Homo sapiens: one gene and its partners. The protein of the gene in region 1 purifies or fractionates together with the protein of each later gene. This does not show direct contact. Each region holds a gene or a part of one and is shown on either strand. Other genes may lie near its edges. The genes, in order: GIMAP2, ARFIP1 and LDAF1.

Evidence for each region.
Region 2: the proteins of GIMAP2 (region 1) and ARFIP1 purify together in Homo sapiens (affinity purification with mass spectrometry; one large-scale study listed by BioGRID and IntAct). This does not show direct contact.
Region 3: the proteins of GIMAP2 (region 1) and LDAF1 purify together in Homo sapiens (affinity purification with mass spectrometry; one large-scale study listed by BioGRID and IntAct). This does not show direct contact.

Annotation. Positions count from the first base shown.
Region 1 is NC_000007.14:150,684,176-150,688,527, reverse strand, and holds the start of GIMAP2 (GTPase IMAP family member 2), read right to left. Parts: upstream 2,823-4,352; 5' UTR 2,743-2,822; intron 2,407-2,742; exon of another isoform or gene 1,821-2,406; intron 1,477-1,820; 5' UTR 1,469-1,476; coding exon 1,441-1,468; intron 932-1,440; exon of another isoform or gene 815-931; intron 1-814. UniProt on the Homo sapiens protein: The heterodimer formed by GIMAP2 and GIMAP7 has GTPase activity. In contrast, GIMAP2 has no GTPase activity by itself.
Region 2 is NC_000004.12:152,786,325-152,789,978, forward strand, and holds part of ARFIP1 (arfaptin-1), read left to right. Parts: intron 1-3,654. UniProt on the Homo sapiens protein: Plays a role in controlling biogenesis of secretory granules at the trans-Golgi network. Mechanistically, binds ARF-GTP at the neck of a growing secretory granule precursor and forms a protective scaffold.
Region 3 is NC_000016.10:21,175,533-21,178,407, forward strand, and holds part of LDAF1 (lipid droplet assembly factor 1), read left to right. Parts: intron 1-1,604; coding exon of another isoform or gene 1,605-1,626; exon of another isoform or gene 1,627-1,629; coding exon of another isoform or gene 1,630-1,702; exon of another isoform or gene 1,703-2,875. UniProt on the Homo sapiens protein: Plays an important role in the formation of lipid droplets (LD) which are storage organelles at the center of lipid and energy homeostasis. In association with BSCL2/seipin, defines the sites of LD formation in the endoplasmic reticulum.

The DNA of each region.
Region 1 (4,352 bases):
TGATACATGTGTCATAGTGACTTTAATAGACTATTCTTCTAGTCTCTATTAATCAGAAAGGCAACTGCCTGAGATGGCATCAATAAATCAAGATTGTGGCCGGGCGTGGTGGCTCACGCCTGTAATCCCAGCACTTTGGGAGGCTGAGGTGGGCAGATCACTTGAGGTCAGGAATTTGAGATCAGCCTGGCCAACATGGTGAAACCCTGTCTCTACTAAAAATATAAAAATTAGCCAGGCATGATGACACATGCCTGTAATCCCAGCTACTCAGGAGGCTGAGGCAGGAGAATCACTTGAACCTGAGAGGCAGAGGTTGCAGTGAGCTGAGATTGCACCAATGCACTCCAGCCTGGGCCACAGAGCCAGACTCCATTCCCTCCACCCCGCAACCAAAACAAAAGGAAATCAAGATTGCATAATAAGAGTCAGTGGCTGGGAGGAAAAAAAAAGTTGTTTCTCATTTGGATCTCAGAGTTCAGCTTGATCAATAAACAAGTTCCATACACAATGAAGCCAGAGACCTCCTATTTCTCACAGGTGAGGGTTGAGTGTGAAGGCAACTTGGTAAGGAGGAAGATCTGGGCTCTTCTTGATGTAAGAGACTGAAGACAGGGCTGTCGAGGGGCAGAGAGTGAGGAGGAGGGAGTGGGAAAGGGGAGGTCAAGATACAGAGAGAGAGACGCCCATACCATACAGATAGCAGAAACAGGTGCAAGAAGAGGAGAGAGAGAGAAAGGACAAGGGAAGAGAAGGGAATGATAGAGACAGACAGAAAGACAGAGAGAGAGACACACACACACACACACAAAGAACCTATGGAAATGTGAGAGAAGGAAGAGAAGACTGAATGGTAGGAGAAGGAGTATTTCAAAGAGATCTGAAAGATTTGTGCATAAGGGAAAAGCCTGGATGCATATTTTGGATCCTGGTGAGTATTTTAACAATTTTCGAGCCAGACTTGGTGGTTCATGCCTGTAATTCCAGCACTTTGGGAGGCTGAGGCGGGTGGATCACAAGGTCAGGAGTTTGAGACCAGCCTGACCAATATGGTGAAACCCCGTCTCTACTAAAAATACAAAAAAAAATTAGCTGGGCGTGGTGGTGTGTGCCTTTAGTCCCAGCTACTTGGGAGGCTGAGGCAGGAGAATCACTTGAACCTGGGAGGTGGAGGTTGCAGTGAGCCGAGATTGCGCCACTGCACTCCGGCCTGGGTGACAGAGAGAGACACTGTCTCAAAACAAACAAACAAACAAACAAACAAAGAAAACAAAACCCCACAATTTTCAGCTGCTGGTGGTGGTAGCTGTGGGAGTTAGAATAAGATCCTTCACCCTTGTTTATTTTGCCCCAACATCATCAGAAGAGCCAAACACACACACACACACACACACACACACACACACACACACACACACACACGTGAAGTCACCTTCTTACCCCAGTGACTGTGTTCATTTTGGTCCATTGGTGTTCCTGAGAAACAGAGAGACAAGAAACTTATTTTTCAGTTCTAAATCATGAAAAATTCTTATATTTCTTTTCTTTTCTTTTTCTTTCTTTCTTTTTTTTTTTTTTTTTTTTGAGACACAGTTTCACTCTGTCACCCAGGCTGGAGTGCAGTGGTGCGATCTCGGCTCACTGCAACCTCCACATCCTGGGTTCAAGTGATTCTCCTGCCTCAGCCTCCCGAGTAGCTGGGATTATGGGTGTGCACCACCATGCCCATCTAATTTTTGTAGTTTTAGTAGAGACAGGGTTTCACCATGTTGGCCAGGCTGGTCTCAAACTCCTGACCTCAAATGATCCACCAGCCTCGGCCTCCCAAAGTTCTGGAATTAAAAGCGTGAGCCATCACACTAGGCCAAGATCCTTATATTTCTAAACAACCATGTTTCATTTGTCTACTCATAAGGGACAAGGTGGGTGGGAAAGGAATGACTTCCTACTTTACAGAGAACTGGAATCACTTGCTGAGGGGCTGAGAAGTGGGTTTCATTTGTAAGCCTCATGCCCAGCTCTCTCTCGCTTTCTTCCTCCCGTCCTCTCACAGATCAGCCCGGCTCCCTTCTGTTTTTGTTTTGCCTGCACACTCTTCGCTTCTGTCAGCTTTCTCTGTAGGTGTGCCTTCCCTTACACCTTAGGCTCAGTCCTCCCTTTCCCTCTCTTTCTTTTCCCACCTTGCCTCCTTCCCTCCTCTACTCTCTCCAAACCTCCTCCCTCATGTTGAGTCTTTGCTGAGAGACTCAGTGAATGAAGATTATGACTCTGGGAAACCGTGCAGTCCTTTAAGCTGGAAATACACTTCACTTGATCCATTAATGGCTTGAATTTTTCTCATTCCCCAACAGCCCCTGGTTATGAAGCCCTTGCAATGTAGGAACTACTATGGAGTGAGAAATATCGGTACGTTTTCATCAGCTAGTTTCTCTTGCTTAAATCTGGCAGGCATAGACCAAGCGTACAAGCACAGAAAACTGAAAGCCACCGATTAATGCCCAAATTCTTCCCAGTTAGCACTTTTTATTGACTTTATACTATGGAAATTCTTTCTTTGCCAGTAATGTGTAAAGTAAATTACATCGGTTTCCTGTAAACTGGCTCCACTTAAGGAAAAGGCAGTCACTCTAAATTGCTTCTCTTAAAATAGGACAAATTTGTTCTAAGAAAAATGAAAATGTTTGTGCATGGCTTGGGACCTAGAAATCAACACTGCAGAACTTTTCGTAAATCTGGGCTTACCTGATTTACTGTTCAAAGAAACAGTTGGCTCCCTGTTCAGTCCTGTTGTCTTATAGCTCAGCTCCAAGAGAAAAAGAAAGTAAAACCGAGACTCCAGTCGGTCTTCTTCCTCTCTTGAATCTTCCTGAGCTTCCTGACTGCTAATGAACGCCACCACGTGCCTGTGTTTGAAATTCTCTTTCATGCCATTATGCAAAATAAACAGTTTAAATGGAAAGTTAATCAGTAGTTATTTGCTGTCATGTGGGCCAACTGTCTCTTCTTCTCAAAAGTGAAAAAAGAGTGTTTTAATGATTTCATCTGGACTGGAAAGAAAGGCATGAATGCCAAGGAAGTTGGTGGATTTCAGTCCTTCCCAGCTGGGATATGTCCCAACAGTTAGAAGTTTGTCTAGATGCAAATGGCCCCCTGAGAAGGGCTTAAACCTCATTGACACCAGCAGCAGGGATTGTTCTAAAGCAGATGCCACTGGGAGAGAAGAGGAGCCTCTGATAGGCACTGCCCAGGGGAAGAAGGGCACAGAAAGGGGAACCTGAGAGGGGACATTTTTGTCTGAGTCTGATTGTAAGGATCATTAACCATCAAAACATTTTTACATAACTCATTCATGGCTTCTAGGATTCTGGGCCTTTCTTCCCTGTCCAGCTCTGTAATTTCAGAGAACCTCCCTGTGGGGAGAAATTGTCTAGGAAATGTCTATAGTAATACTCTGGAGTGTTGGCTGGGTCAAATGGTATTTCTAGTTCAAGATGCCTGAGGAATCGCCACACTGACTTCCACAATGGTTGAACTAGTTTACGGTCCCACCAACAGTGTAAAAGTGTTCTTATTTCTCCACATCCTAGCATTTAAAACATTTCCTTTTGATTGTCTTGGAGTTTCCAGGTTTATCATAGACTCAGTTGCAAATAGTGATAATTTTCCCTCCTTGTTTCCAAAAATATCTTATGTTGCTTTCTCTTGTATAATTACAATTGCTTGCTACCTTTTCAAAAGTGAGTTAATGTGCTTTTATTATTTATTTACCTGTAGGGCACCTAATATCTTATCATTAATATTGATGTTGGTTATTGGAAATTAATTAGTTTATTTTAAAATCAGTGTGGCTATACTTTGCTTAGTCCTATTTCATTAAAGTCTTTTATCTGTGGTATAAATTTAGAAAATTTTATTTTGACGTTGACTGATATAATTCCATGTCTTTTTCCTTTTGACCTACTAATATTGCAAATTACATCACTGCGTTTCCTAACATAAGTGATATGTACATGTACATGTGCAAAGGTTTGGGTTCCTAGGAATACAGACTGTTGAGATGAAGATAAAATGGATGAAGGAAGTTTATTAGGGAATCTTCTCAGGAAATGTGCTAGAGGGAGAAGGGAAGAACCCAGGATTAGGCAGGGAGAAGTGAGACTGAGATGTAGTCACAACAAATATAGACTCTACAGGGAGTTCTAAAGTTTGGTTGGACTTTCAGAATGAAGGAGAGTGAGCAGAACTTTATAATCCCCATCGGATGCAAACTTCCTCTGGAAAAGACACTTGACTTACATAGGGCATCTCTCTTCAGCATAAGCTAATTTCTGGACAGGTCTGACGGCTCAACA
Region 2 (3,654 bases), on another chromosome or scaffold:
ATTTCCCCTTCCCTCCCTACAAAACTGCACAACGTTGGTTCTTTCTTTGTTCCTTTTTTCAGTGAATGACACAATTATCTTTTCATTGTAAAATCCAGAAAACTAGAAGTGATCCTTAATTCCCTCTCCCTGATAGATCCAATGATTGAACAAGTTTTTAAAGTCTTACTTTCTACATGACTCTTGAATTTTTCTATTTCTTCCTGTTTCCACTACTGCCACTTCATCTTGCCTGAAACTTTTACAATAGCCTCCATTCTTATCTGTCCTCTCTAATTCATTACCCATCTTGAAGGCACAGTGATTTATTTTGAAACACACATTGGATTATCACTCTCCTTCTTCCTCCCCCAGTGCTTTTATGGCTTTCCATTGCTTCTAGGATCAAAATAAAACTGCTTAACAGCCTTTAGCTCTCCAGACTCATCTTGTACCATGTTCTGCATAACTCTCCAGTTCAACCATGCTGGCCTTCTTTAGTCCTTTGTATGCACCTTGCTCCCTGCCATTTTTGCAAGGCTTTTGTACATGCTTTTCTCTCTGTCTGGACCATTCTTTCTTTACTTTCATTTCATTTCACTTGTTAGTTCCTAGTCATCCTTCACACCTCAGCTGAAGTTTTGCATCCTTAGAGAATATGCTCACTTCCCACATTAAGGTAATAGCATCATACATTTCCCGCAGTTTGCAATTTACATTTATTCATGTGACTGTAAGATTTTCTTTCTGTTCAGTGGCCTATAAACTTCATGAAGGTAAGGTCCATATCTTGTTTTCTTTTTTGGCTCATTTTTGAATCCCTAGAACCTAGCTCAGTACCTGACACCTAAATTTGACTCATTAAATTTCCAAGTTAATGGTATTAAGGATTTCAGTTCATCGAGTTTTGTAATACAAGAATTTGAATATGAATTTTTATAAAAATAGTGTTAAAATGGTAGTACAGTTTGAACATTCCTAATCCAAAAACTTGAAATCCAAAATGCTGCAAAATTCAAAACTTTTTTGAGCCCAACATGATGCTACAAGTACATAATTCTACACCCAACTTTATGTGATGAATCAAAGTCAGAATGCAGGTGTACAACAGTTTCTCCAAGAGAAAAAAGACCTGCCTAGCCCCCTTCAGCTGCCATATATCTTTTCCTCACACAGCCAGATGCACCTACGCAAGCATGCCCGCAAAGGGCAATACAATGCCATGTGTATGTGTAAGAAATGATTGGTTATACGTAGCATATAAATTCAGAGACGGGAATGATAGTGATGTCAAACAACCACAGACTGTCCACATGAGTGGCTGAGATAGTGACACCTTTGCTTTTGGATGGTACAGTGTATACAAACTTTGTTTCATGCAAAAAATTATTAAAAGTATTATATAAAATTACCTTCAAGCTATGTGTATAAGGTGTATATGAAATGTAAATGAATTTTGTGTTTACACTTGGGTCCCTTCCTGAAGATACCTCATTATGCATATGGAAATATTCCAAATGCCAAAAAAATCTGAAATCCAAAACATTTCTAGTCTCAAACATTTTGGAAAAGGGATAATCAACCTGTAATTAAATTTTCAGTTTGACTATTTCTTTCAAGTGTATGGAAATAAATTATTAGGCCGGGCACAGTGGCTCACGCCTGTAATCCCAGCACTTTGGGTGGCCGAGGTGGGTGGATCACTTGAGGTTGGGAGTTCAAGACCAGCCTGGCCAACATGGTGAAACCCTGTCTCTACTAAAAAATATACATATACAGATTAGCTGGGCGTGGTGACCTGCACCTGTAATTCCAGCTACTTGGGAGGTTGAGGTGGAAGATCGTTTGAACCTGGGAGGCAGAGGTTGCAGTGAGCCGAGATCGTGCCTCTGCACTCCAGCCTGGGCGACAGCAAGACTCCGTCTCAAAACAAAAAATGTGTTATTAGTAGCTATATAAAATATAGCAATATAGCACAGTATTCTTACACTATTTTGTAATAGACCCTTTTATTTTTGGATGGTTTTAGTTTTACAGAATTACTGTGAAGATAGAATAGAGCTTCCCATACCCACTTTCCCCTATTATAAGATAGGCTGTGCACAGTGGCTCATGCCAGTAATCCTAGCACTTTGGGAGGTCAAGGCAGGTGGATTGCTTCAGCTCAGGAGTTCAAGACCAGCCTGGGCAACATGGTGAAACCCCATCTCTACCAAAAATACAAAAAATTAGCTGGGCATGGTGGTGCCCATCTGTGATCTCAGCTACTTGGGAGGCTGAGGTGGGAGGATTACTTGAGCCCAGGAGGCGGAGGTTGCAGTGAGCAGAGATTATGCCACGGTACTCCATCCTGGATGACAGAGCGAGACTCCATCTCAAAAAAACAAAAACAAAAACATACTACATTAGCATAGTACATTTGTCACAATTAACCAATATTGGCACGTAATTATTAAAGTCCATATTTTATTCAGATTACCTCACTTTTCCCCAATGTCTTTTTTTTTTTTTTTTTTTTCTGTTCAAGGATCCCATCTAGGATAGCATATTACCTTTAGTGGTCATGTATCCTTTCATTTTGACAGTTTCTCAGATTTCCTTGTTTTTGATGACAAGTTGATAGTTTTGAAGATTACTGCCTGGTCAGGTATTTTGTAGACTGTCCCTCAGTTGGGACTTGTCTGCTGTTTTTCTCATTAGACTGGGTGATATGTTTCTAGGAGGAAGATCACAGAAGTAAAGTGCCATTCCCATCACATCATATCAAGAATACAGACTTTTTTTTTTTTTTTTTTTTTTTTTTTTGAGGTAGAGTCTCACTCTGTTGCCCAGGCTGGAGTGCAGTAACGCAATCTCGGCTCACTGCAACCTCCACCTCCTGGGTTCAAGCGATTTTCCTGTCTCAGCCTCCCAAGTAGCTGGGTCTACAGGTACATGCCACCATGCCCGGCTAATTTTTGTATTTTTAGTAGAGAGAGGTTTCACCATGTTGGCCAGGCTGGTCTTGAACTCCTGACCTCAGGTGATCCACACACCTCAGCCTCCCAAAGTGTTGGGATTACAGGCGTGAGCCACTGTACCTGGCCAAGAATACAAACTATTAATATGACAGTACCATTGATATTAACCTTGACTACTTGGCTTGAGATAATGTTCATCAGTTTTGTCCACTGTAAAGTTACTCTGTTTTCCCCCTCCTTTTGTATATTGTACTTTTTAGAAGAAAGTCTCTCTGTGAAGCACACAATTGGGAATTGGGGAATTATGCTTTACCTCTTTAAGGGTGAAGTGTCTACATAAATTTTTGAAAAATCTTCTATAAGAGTTTTTTGTCTATTCTCCCCTTTCAGTCGTTTATTTATATCAGTCTGACTCATGGATATTTATTTTATACTTAAGGGTAAATCCAGTAGTACTTTATTACTTTGTTGCTCAAATTGTTTCAGCTGTGGCCACTGGGAGCTCTTTTAGTTGGTTCCTGTATTCCTTTGACATACTCCTGTCATTGTGAGACTTTTGTTCTTGTTTTGTTTGTTTGTTTGTTTTTGAGCACTTTTAACTTTCTGGTATTACAAAATGCTCTAGGCTCACCTTGTGTATTACCTACCACAGGCCTAGAATCAGCCTTTTCTCCAAGGAGCACTGATTCCTTCTATTGGAGAATAGTATTAGAAA
Region 3 (2,875 bases), on another chromosome or scaffold:
AAATAATATAGTCTCTACTGCAGTTAGTCAACTCTGTTGCCGTAGCATGAAGGCAGCACAGACCAGGAAGTAAATGCATGGGCATGGCTGTGTTCCAGTAAAACTTTATTTACAAAGACAGGCAGCTTGCTGGATTTGGCCAACCATTGCTCTATAAGAACTGATATCCTGAGTTTTGTTTTTCTACAAAACAGCCCTTGAACTCCTTACCAAAAGTTTATCCTGTTATTATTCCTATGTTGAAAAATAAAGGGTGAAGTGGGTATAATATAAAATTGCTCAAGGATGGCTCTTATAGGATTGCTTAATTGAATCAACCCTGGAGTCATAATCACCTTTTCAAAAATCGCTTTGATCACTCTTAGTCTTTTGTTTGTTCATTTGTATTTTACTTATAAAATGGGGTCTTGCTGTGTTGCCCAGGCCATTCTCAAACTCCTGGCTTCAAGCAATCCTCCCCCGTTGGCCTCTCAATGAACTGGAATTATAGGCGTAAGGCACTAACTCACTCCCAGTCTTAAAAGATGTAAAAGGAGAAATATTGGCCTATTTTGCATATTGAGGGTGATGCTTCTGAAATAAAATTCCTCCCTGCCTCTGAACGCTGCTGTAACAGGGTGAGTTCTTAAAGATTATACCACAGGAAGTAGCAGAATCTGACTCCCTACTTATCAATGAAGAAATTGAAAAACAAATCCAGGATTTGTACTTGATCTCCTTATCTTCCCCTATTGCTGCCAACCAATTGTTTCCACGTGGGCAGAGGTTCTTAAGCTTTTTGTTCTCAAGTCCCATTTTACCTTCTTAAAAATTATTGAGGCATCTGAAGAGATGTTATTTATGTGGTTAATTGTATTAATAGCACTTTGGGAGGCCAAGGAGGGAAGATCACTTGAGGCCAGGGGTTTAAGACCAACCTAGGCAACATGGCAAGACCACATCTCTACAAAAAATACAAAAATTAGCCAACTGTGGTGGTGCGTGCCTGTAGTCCCAGCTACTCAGGAGGCTGAGATGGGAGGATCATTTGGGCCCAGGAGTTCAAGGCTGCAGTGAGCTGTGATCACACCATTGCACTCCAGCCTGGGCAACAGAGCAAGACCCTGTCTCAAAAAACAAATGAAATGAGCTGAAATATAAAATAAATAACTAACATGACATAAAACTATATACAATAAAATAAATTAAAATAAACATAACATAAATTACATTAAATCAAATTAAATATTAGCTGGTGCATGCTTGTGGTCCCAGCTACTCAAGAGGCTGAGGAGGGAGGATGGCCTGAGCCTGGGAGGTTGGGGGTGCAGTGAGCTATGATTGTACCACTGCACTCCAGCCTGGGTGACAGAGCTAGACTCTGTCTGGAAAAAAAAAAAAAAAGAATATTAATAATTATTTCTTTTTAAAAAATTTTCTTCCTCATTGTTTCTTGTTCTGAAATAATTATTCTATGAGAAATCATAGCATAAATTTTAAAAATATCTATTCATTTAAAAGGAACAATATTACCTGTTGATATAAATAACAAATTTTAATGAAAAGTAACTATATTTTCCAAAACAAAATGAAATTTGTGAGTGGTATTATTTTACATTTTACAGATCTCTTTCATATCTGCCTTAACAGTTGTCAGCCGGCTTCTCGTTTGTGTGGCTGCATTCATTCTGTTGTGCTATGTTGTCCTGTTTGGAGTATTTGAAGAAGACCTAGCATCACTAACATGCGGTTGGGAGAGGGAGGCAAAGCTTTTTTAAACGATTGTGGATATTCTATGATAGTCCACCAAAACTCCGTAAGTGATAGTTTCTTAAAGGTTAGCTGAAATGTGAAATTTTTCTACTCTATTTTATTGAAATCTTCAGGTCTGTGTCACACTTTAAATTGATCTTTATCATGCATGATTTTCTAACTTTACCCATTGGTCAATGGGAGAATATCAATTCATTGAGTCATGCAGATCTTCCAAATATATTTTGAAAAATTGCACTGTTCCCTTGTGAGAGAATGTGAGTGAAAAAGGCATATAATAGGTCATGTTATTGTGAACATGGTTTTCATCTGAGAACCCTTGCATTAGCGAATTCTTTTTTTTTTTTTTTTTTTTGAGACGAGTCTCACTCTCACCCAGGCTGGAGTGCAGTGGCTTGATCTTGGTTCACACAACCTCTCCCTTCTGGGTTCAAGCAGTTCTTCTGTCTCAGCCTCCCGAGTAGCTGGGATTATAGGTGTGCACCACCATGCATGGCTAATTTTTGTGTTTTTAGTAGAGGTGGGGTTTCACCATGTTGGCCAGGCTGGTCTTGAACTCCTGAGCTCAAGTGATCCACCCACCTCAGCCTCCCAAGATGCTGGGATTATAGGTGTAAGCCACTGTACCCAGCCTGCATTAGTGAATTCTTTATAACTCAAAAAAAGATAACTCCCTCATTAAATGATCGAAAGCATGGAATGGGGGGAAGAGGAGCTATATAATTTATTTCATGATTTAATGGAATTTTGGCCCTAAAACATAAAAGATAATACAGCTTAAATTTTTAAAAAAGAAAAGAAAAAGGAAACAAAACTGTAAGTTTCCCTTACATATGAAACCCAACTAAACAATATTTAGATCAAATACACTGACCTGCCTCCTATGTAGATCAGCTAGCCTCTGAGGGGCAAAACCACACTGCTTGGTTATGGAGACTGCAAGACCTTCCAGGGCCTGCAGCTCAGGAGAAGTAGGGGCCCTGGGCAGCTGTGTTTATTTGCAGAGCCACCAAACTCACTACCCCATATCATAATCTTCCAAACCAGCCTGAGCATAACTAGCTTCCTTACATCTTTACTAAGAAAAGGAAAGGCTTCTTTCTTAGTTTTTTGTTATCAGGGA